Regions from separate parts of the Homo sapiens genome. Here all the other regions are linked to region 1. Evidence: fine-mapped expression QTL. A gene starts in region 1. Each other region holds a variant in brackets. All regions are shown on one strand. Distances are from middle to middle. Region 1 holds the start of APPL2 (adaptor protein, phosphotyrosine interacting with PH domain and leucine zipper 2). Region 2 overlaps WASHC4 (WASH complex subunit 4). Region 3 has its middle 26 kb from the start of APPL2.

Region 1 (2,500 bases):
TATTCACTTAGAAGAAAAAGGGAAGGAACCCCAAAAGAGAGGGGAAAGTGTGAAACGAAAATAGGTTAATCTTATTCTAAGTTTTCAAGAGTTGAGACACTAGGAAATAAAGGCACTTATTTAAATAAACCCGGGATGCTGAACCAGGAGTGTAGGTACGAAGCTGGAGAAATGTTAAACAAAGGAGAACAAAAGACCCCTGGGGAAAGATGTGCTGAATTATGAACTAATGTCATCCTGCACTCATTTGCTATATTTACACACCAGTTTTCATCTGCAGAGCTCAAAGGACTTGACTCTCATCTCGAGTGTGCTAATGAAGTTCCCTTGTGCGACAAATGGGGCAGGTACTGTATTTTTCTCTTCACTAATGGGAAAACGGTGCCAAAAGGAGGCCTGGTACCGCCGGAAAAGAGATCCAGGCCCTCTGCCTCTCATTCTGGCTGGCACAAGTCTCATCACATCATTAGGAGTAGCAGTAATAAGACTGACTCATTATCTGTACCGGACATTGTCTGCTGACAACTTTACAGGTATTTCTCATTGACTTCTCCTAACAACCCTATGAAGCAGGCACAATTATTATTCCTATTTTACAGACGACAAAACTAAGGCACAATAAGGTGGTTTTCCTGAGGCACTCAGCTACTACATGGAATCAAAGTTTAGATCTCGCAGACTCAGTTGCAGCTGAGCTTGCAGGGGGGTCACGACATCAAGACTCCGGCCGCGGGGCTCTCTCCCCTGTTCCACAGCTCTGCCCCGGCTCAGGACTCAGGGCCCGGCCCGCCCCCTCCTCAGCCCGAGAGAACCCGGTGGGAGGCGCCGCGAGGGGGCCGGGCGCACTCCCGCGGCTGCCCGGCCGGGGGCGCGGCCTCCACTCCGGGGCTGGAGGGGCCTCCTCGGCCTCACCCCTGCGGGCGAGGGGCACCGGAGCGGCGGGAGGTACCTGGGGGCTGTCCTGCAACGCCTCCTCTAGCAGGAGCTTGTCCACGGCGGGCATGGTGCGGCGCGGCTCAGCCGAGGGCTGGGTTGGAAGGACAGAGGGCAGGAGACGCGGCGGCCGAGAGCACTCCCCGGCTCTGGGCTCAGGCGACGCGGCGGCCACTCCGTGCCCGCGGCGGCCCCGCGCGCGTCCACGCCTGGCCAGTGGCCGCCGCCGCCTGCCCGCCGGCCCAGCCCCCGGCCGAGCCGGATCAACAGGAAGTGTGGCGCGCCCGGCAGGGAAACCGGAAGTGTGGTGAGCTCCGGTCCCGACACCGGAAATGTGGCGCCCGCGCTTCCGCCTGCGCTCGCCGGCTCGCGGGGAGCGGGGGGCTCTGGGTGCCAGTCCCGTTGCTGAGGGAACCCTTCGGGTGTTTGTTCTCTGTGCTGAAGGTCCGTCAAGTCAATGCATATGAAGTCCAAAAGAGGAACTCGAGGGTAGAAAGATAAGGTTTTATCTGCTTATGGCTACCCAGAAAGCCTTTTGAGTTGAAGGAGCGAACAGATTTTTTCTTTTAATGGAAGGAAAAACCCACACTTCCCACACCACTTTTTCTAGATAAATTTCGACGCCCCTGAAACAGCTCTGAGAGCAAAGAGGTCGCCTATGCTATGGGAACAAAGAAAAGAGGAGAAAAGCTGGATAACTGACTCGTCTGTGATAATCAGAAATAACCACTTTGGAAACCACAGCTATTTGATGTGGTCATAATTAGGTCTCGTCCTCCTGGTTTATGTTTTGTGATTTTGGAGAATTTCATAATCAAATGTTTAGAATTGGAAGGGCTAGATAATCTAGGTTCCAGTGTTGTCATTTAGAGATGAGAAAATGGGACCCAGAGAAATAAGTGGTCTGCCCAGGGTCAGTTAGTAAACGCCAGAGGAAGAAAAGAAGGAAGGGAGAGGGATGGAAGAAGACTGGCAAGTGGAACGTGACACCTTTTTACACGGAAGGCAAGGGTTTCTGAAGTTCCTTCTTTAGAAGTTAATAAGACTGGCCGGGCGTGGTGGTTCACGCCTGTAATCCCAGCACTTTGGGAGGCCGAGATGGGTGGATCACGAGGTCAGGAGTTCAAGACCAGTCTGGCCAAGATGCTGAAACCCCGTCTCTACTAAAAATACAAAAATTAGCCGGGCGTGGTGGCATGCGCCTGTAATCCCAGCTACTCGGGAGGCTGAGGCAGAAGAATCACTTGAACCCGGGAGGCAGAGGTTTCAGTGAGCCGAGAGGGCACCACTGCACTCCAGCCTGGGCAACAGAGCAAGACTCCGTCTCAAAAAAAAAAAAAAAAATCATGCAGTATGTGTGTCACCAAAATCAACAGAGGGGATATGGTAATATATAAATTCTGCATTCTGCAGAGACCTCTTAGGTATATCAAGACCCAATCTGCATTGCTGACACCTCTGACAGTCTAGTATAGTAGCATGCTGCCTGATCACTTGAAAACTCCAAGGCCATTATTCCCTTGGTCTGGCCAGCGCCAACCTGACCTGAACCATTTTATGGCCTCCA
Region 2 (2,857 bases), 110 kb before region 1:
TCCATCATCACAGAAAGTTCTGTTGGAGAGCGCTGCTTTAAGCAGGTTCCACTCGAAATTGCATTATATTCCATTTATAATATACTTCAAGGTTACCTTTAGTTTATGTTTTACATGATCACAGTTTTTAACCGATTGATCTCAACTCTTGTTTACAGTTGACCCTTTGAATAACATGCTTTTGAAGTGTGCACGGGTCCACTTATATACAGATTGTTTTTCAATAAATGTATTAGAAAATTTTTTGAACATTAGCAACACTTTTGAAAAAAACTTGCAGACAAATGGCATAGCCTAGAAATATTAAAAAAACTTGAGGAAAAGTTAGGTATGTCATGAATGCATAAAATATATGTAGATACTAATCTATTTATGTGTTAATTGACTTATGTTATCCATAAGGCTTTTGGTCAACAGTGTGCTATTACTAGTTAAGTTTTTGGGTAGACAAAAGTTATATGAAGATTTTTGACTGCACGAGGGTCAGTGTCCCTAACTTTATGTTTAAGCGTCAACTATATATCAATTTAAATGTTAGTTCATTAGGTTAAGAAGATAATTTTTTTGTTATTGATTCTTTTTCCAGGAGACATTTCTATACATGCTATAATAAAGTGCTAGGAAAGTAATTGTAAGCAGAAAACATAAATTCTACTCTTAAAAGTGCAAAGTAAAATAAAAAATATGCTTTATCTTTTATACATCTCTGAACATCGTGTGTATCTCTTTATACAGGATTATAGATTTGGGTTCAATTTTATTACTTTCACATAACTAGTACCCAAATATATAAATACATATATATTTTTCATTCACAAAGATCTAAATATTAGATTAGATTAAGAACCTGAGCTTTAGTTTTAGTAAAATTTAAATGATGAATATAGAAATTTATCATACACTGTATTTAGTGTATGATATTTAAATGTTTAATCGTTTATTATTGAGAGTCTGAATTTCTCTTTCAATGTTTCCTGTCTAGGCCTGTATAGAACAACAATTTGATTCTCTCAATGGAGGAGTATCTGTGTCAAAAAATAGTACTTTTGCTGAGGAATTTGCACATAGTATTCGGTCAATTTTTGCAAATGTAGAAGCCAAACTTGGTAATGTAAATCGCATTTTTTGGTTTTTGTTTATAAAATTTGCATTTCCTTAAAAGCATAATTGAAGTATATTTGTTCTGCTTTCTCTTATGTTATTGATTTGTAAGGAGAACCTTCTGAAATTGACCAGAGAGACAAGTATGTTGGAATTTGTGGACTCTTT[G/T]TATTGCACTTTCAGATTTTTCGAACTATTGATAAAAAGTTTTATAAGTCTTTATTGGACATTTGTAAGAAGGTAAGAACTTGAAACTTATTTTTCAATTTGAGCAGATTAAAAAGATTGCAGATAAAACTAAATATTTTAAAATGCATTTTATTCCTGTTTACAAAAATAATTTAAAAGTATTCACTTGTAAAATTCAAGTATTCCAGAAATAAGTAACTTAGTGAATGAAAATACGTCGTATTTCTACATCATATTACTACATATTGGTAGATGGTGTTCAGATTTGTTCCTGTACAACTTCTCTTAGTGCTACTAATACTACTTTTTTCTTTTCCTTTTCTTTGCCACTGATTTTCATTACTGAAGATGAAGAAATTTAAAATATATTTCTTTCTATGTCTTTGCTATTTTCATAATGTGGTATCTGATTTCAAAATTGAAAGATTAGTTTGTGTGTAACATCAAGTGATAGTAACTATGATAACCCAGCCAATTTTTTAAAAAACTTATGTACTTAAATAGAATGAAACTAAAAGACATGAAGATTCAAGTTTCTATTGTTGCATTTTTTTATCTGACAGTCCATGAAAGGGTGTTTTGTGTGTGTGTTATTTAATATTCAGGTGAATAAAATTGTCATGCTCAACACCAGATGTAGAAATGCCTTAACTCTGCCACAGTGAAAGATATTTGTCTCATAATATATTAATAAGTATTTTTTGTGGTTATTTTTTCTTGAAATCAGTTGTCTTCCATGTGTATTATAGAACTTTTAAACAGCTTGTTGTTTAGCCTGCATTTAATGAATTTTCCCCTTTTCCCTTTTCTGTTTCAGGTACCAGCCATCACTCTAACTGCTAATATTATTTGGTTTCCTGATAATTTTCTGATCCAGAAAATACCAGCAGCTGCCAAACTGCTAGACAGAAAAAGTCTTCAAGCCATTAAAATACACAGGGATACTTTTCTACAACAGAAAGCTCAATCACTTACCAAGTAGGTTTTATAAACAAGTATAATGAAAATATTTAGATATCCTTTATTTTCAAAGATTATACTAACACTTAATGTATAGTACCATTTGAATTATAAGATTAAATGTACTTGATAAGTAAGGGTCAGGCAATCTCCAGGAGATTTGTTTTCTAGAAGTTTTTTGTAAAGAATATTTTACACTTAAAGTCAATTTAAGATGTAGACAGATTATACTTTATGGATACAAATGCGTACATACATAGTTTTTATCATCTGTGTTAAATATTTTTTGTCCAAATGAAGTCTCAGATTTTGTTGCAGTAGATATCATTTGATGACATTAAAAACATTCTGTGTCCATGGTGATTTTGGGAGAGGTTGAGTTTTTCTTGATGTGCTTCCTTTTTCCCCCTTCTTTTTATTTTTATGAAAATAGTATATGCATGTATATAAAACATCAAAAAGTGCTAAAGCTTAAAGGGAAAGATAATTCTTCCCAGTTCCTTCCTGTATTTCAGTCTTGCTCTCCAAAGGCACACTTTTAACTCTTTGTTTCTTCTTTTTTTTACATCCTTATTTTTTGTATACGTCCTTATTTTTTATCTCTTAT
Region 3 (2,857 bases), 26 kb after region 1:
CCCTAAAACCTCACTGTATTCTTTTCAGTCAATAATAACATGACTTAGCATTATGCCTGACACTGATACATATGCAATAAATCTAGGCATTGGGAATGCAAAGATAAATAAGGAACAGTTCTTCCCTAAATAAAAGTGGTATAATGGCTTCTGTGCTGTACCAGTGGTAGTTTCAAAGTATTATTGGATATGGGGGAAGGGATGAGTGACTTTCTGGAGGGTCACGGTGGATGGTCTGGAAAGGTCTAACAGAGAACAGCTTTTGTTTGGGACCTTGGTGAATAAAGAGGACTTTCTTAGAAACAAGCAGATACAAGCCAAAAATCAACTGCTGGGTGCATTCCCAGCTATAGGCAAGAGGTTCTTGGCTCAAATATGTGGATTCAAGCAAAGAATTAGGAAAAAATGGAGAGGGAAAGTACTTTGCCTCCTCCCATCTATGTGCACCCAAGGAACCAGAAAAAAAAGAATGGAATACAATGGTTATTTTTTAATTTCAATAGTAAAACATGGCTAGGCCATTTATTGCTATAGTCCAAATTTTTCCTCTGAAATATTGGATACTTTTCCTGTTGAAGAACAAATCTAGCATAAGGTTAATGGGCAGAGGGTCCCATTTTTAGAAACAGGTTAAACATACTGTACTGTGGAATAAGCTAATGTATGCCTGATATGAAATTTATGCTAAAATAACTCTAAAAATCTCATTAGGAGAGTAACCAGAGATCCTGAAAAACAGCTTTAATAATGGCAATAAAAGCAATCTCACCTAGTTTAGTATTACAAATGGGGAAATGAAACTATGAAGTTAAGTAGCCTAGCAAAGCCATGGGGCATTATTATAGAAGCAGCTCAGATTTTCTCATTCCTATGAACGTTTGGTTCCCTCAGTTACTAAACCTCTTTTGCATATGGACTTTTGCATATATATAACTATATAGTTATTTCCTACACTACGTACATATAAGGTTTCAAATTACACTTTGTTTTCTATTTTGCTCCAATGTACATATAAGCTCACATGTACAACCTGAGAAAACTTAGAGTTGACTGTGACAAGTCTTGATGTCTTTCATCATGCCTTTGGATAACAATTTAAACAACAGGGACAGTGCTGTTACAAAACTAAAATTATAAATATGGAAGCCATCATATGTCAAAACTGGATGCAAAATATTTTGAAGGCATTGCTTCCTAAAAGAAAACAAAGTAACTCTAGTTCATCAGAATCCAGGGAAGAAGAGAAAACCTATCCAGCCATCTGTAGTACAGCTGAGTCTGCGACATGTGACATGTACCATCCAGCATGTGACATGTACCTTCCAGGGGTTGCTTTGGGAGCCTCGGAGAAACTTGGAGTACATACAAGAGAAAAATACAAGGTCCGTATACAAAATATGCTACTCTCAGCAGGAAAAATAAGGGCAAAATAAAATGATGTAAAAGTAGCAGCCGCTTTAGGCTTCTTTGTTCCATGTTGGGGAGGGGTTTTTTTTTAATGCTAATAAACTTGAAGGGCCCATTTTGAAATAATTTCATTATGTGACTGTCAAGAAAATGCCA[C/T]AAAAGTCTCACAGACATAAATAACTGCCATCTTCAATTTGTAAAACGTCTTATTGCCCACTGGTTTTGTATTCTAGAGAGCTTAATGCTTTTTCTCTATCCTTTTACTTGTACTGTTAATTCCCTCTGCTTTTACATTCTTAAGGAAAGGGTTTTCATTTCACAAGTCAGGTAGGGTTTTCTCAGTGTTTTGGACTTTCACATCCTGGGAACTTTTGTTTTTGACTGCTAAGAACCCATCAACCTCCTGGCTAGGGTCTTCCTGTACCCAAGCTGTGCCCAGGTTTCCAGTATAAGAGGTTGCAAAGTAACAAACTCAGTCTGAGGGGCTGGGTGGCATTGAGCATGCAGATCCAAGGTTTGACTACTGCCACTGCCACTCTGTGTGACGTTGGATAACTGACTTACCCACTCTGTGCCTCAGGGGCGTCGTTGTAAATTGGGGGTAATGAGAGTGCCTACCTCATGAGGTTACTGAGAGGATGAAGTGATTGGCTGGCACATTGTGAGTACTAGGGAAATGTTAGCTATTACCATTATTGCATTCTAATATCCCAGTAAGATATTTACGTTTGTGGCAAATATTCCTTAATATGTTCTTTAATCTGATGTGTACTGAAGTGGAGAGTTCAGTTATTGAAGTTGAAAGATCTTGGCTTGAGGCTCAACATTGCCACATTCTAAATATGTCACTTTGGGCAAAATATGGAACCCATCTGGGCTTCAGTTTTCTCAACCATGAAATATGCAGGGGATGGGGAGCTGGATAATTTCTCATTTATTCATTTAACAAATATTTGTCGAGCACTTAACATTCATCTCCAAAATCTATATGATAGTTGTAAGCATTTTATGTGGACTCGATATGATCCCAGGTGTTACTTTTGCAAGTAGAGTTGTTTGTCAGGGGTTCTCCCTCATTGCATTTTTCTCATGCAGATGAGCAGTGGATTTAATGTTTCTGTGGCTTAGGGATCTCTTTGGGTATCTGGGGAATGCAGAGCAACCTCTCCACACGCCGACATACACACAGGCCAGACAGAATTTGGGCACAACCTAGGGGCTGGCTGACAGCTTTGCAGTCTATTTGTGGCTCTCTGGGGCCCTAAGAGCAGTGTACAGATTGAGAGTTGGACCACTCAGATTCTGCCTAGCTGGGAATCCTGGAAATCAGTAGGAAAAGGAATATGGTGGCAGCTACCCATTTGAAGATCAACTGAATAAGACACGAAACACTAACACAGGCAGAAAGGTCTCTGTCAACCAGCTGGCAACTCCTGCTACAGGTGAAATC

Evidence for each region. PIP is the estimated chance that this variant, and not a neighbour inherited with it, causes the effect. A credible set is the group of variants that fine-mapping cannot tell apart.
Region 2: its variant is the best candidate, but not a certain one, in a credible set for the expression of APPL2 in whole blood (INTERVAL, PIP 0.89).
Region 3: its variant is the best candidate, but not a certain one, in a credible set for the expression of APPL2 in esophagus muscle (GTEx, PIP 0.57).

Annotation. Positions count from the first base shown.
Region 1 is chr12:105,235,010-105,237,509 of GRCh38, forward strand. It overlaps APPL2 (adaptor protein, phosphotyrosine interacting with PH domain and leucine zipper 2), which reads right to left and starts at 1,165. Exons shown (of 21, transcript NM_018171.5): 1 at 950-1,165. The coding sequence starts at 1,003. RefSeq lists silencers at 744-993, 1,044-1,183 and an enhancer at 1,048-1,548.
Region 2 is chr12:105,125,022-105,127,878 of GRCh38, forward strand. WASHC4 (WASH complex subunit 4) reads left to right here. Exons shown (of 33, transcript NM_015275.3): 11 at 983-1,106; 12 at 1,214-1,341; 13 at 2,108-2,268. Among named protein-coding and RNA genes, the nearest start is that of WASHC4, 19 kb to the left of the region's middle. The variant G/T (reference allele first, on the strand shown) is at 1,270.
Region 3 is chr12:105,260,391-105,263,247 of GRCh38, forward strand. No RefSeq gene overlaps it. Among named protein-coding and RNA genes, the nearest start is that of APPL2, 26 kb to the left of the region's middle. RefSeq lists a silencer at 1,733-1,907. The variant C/T (reference allele first, on the strand shown) is at 1,564.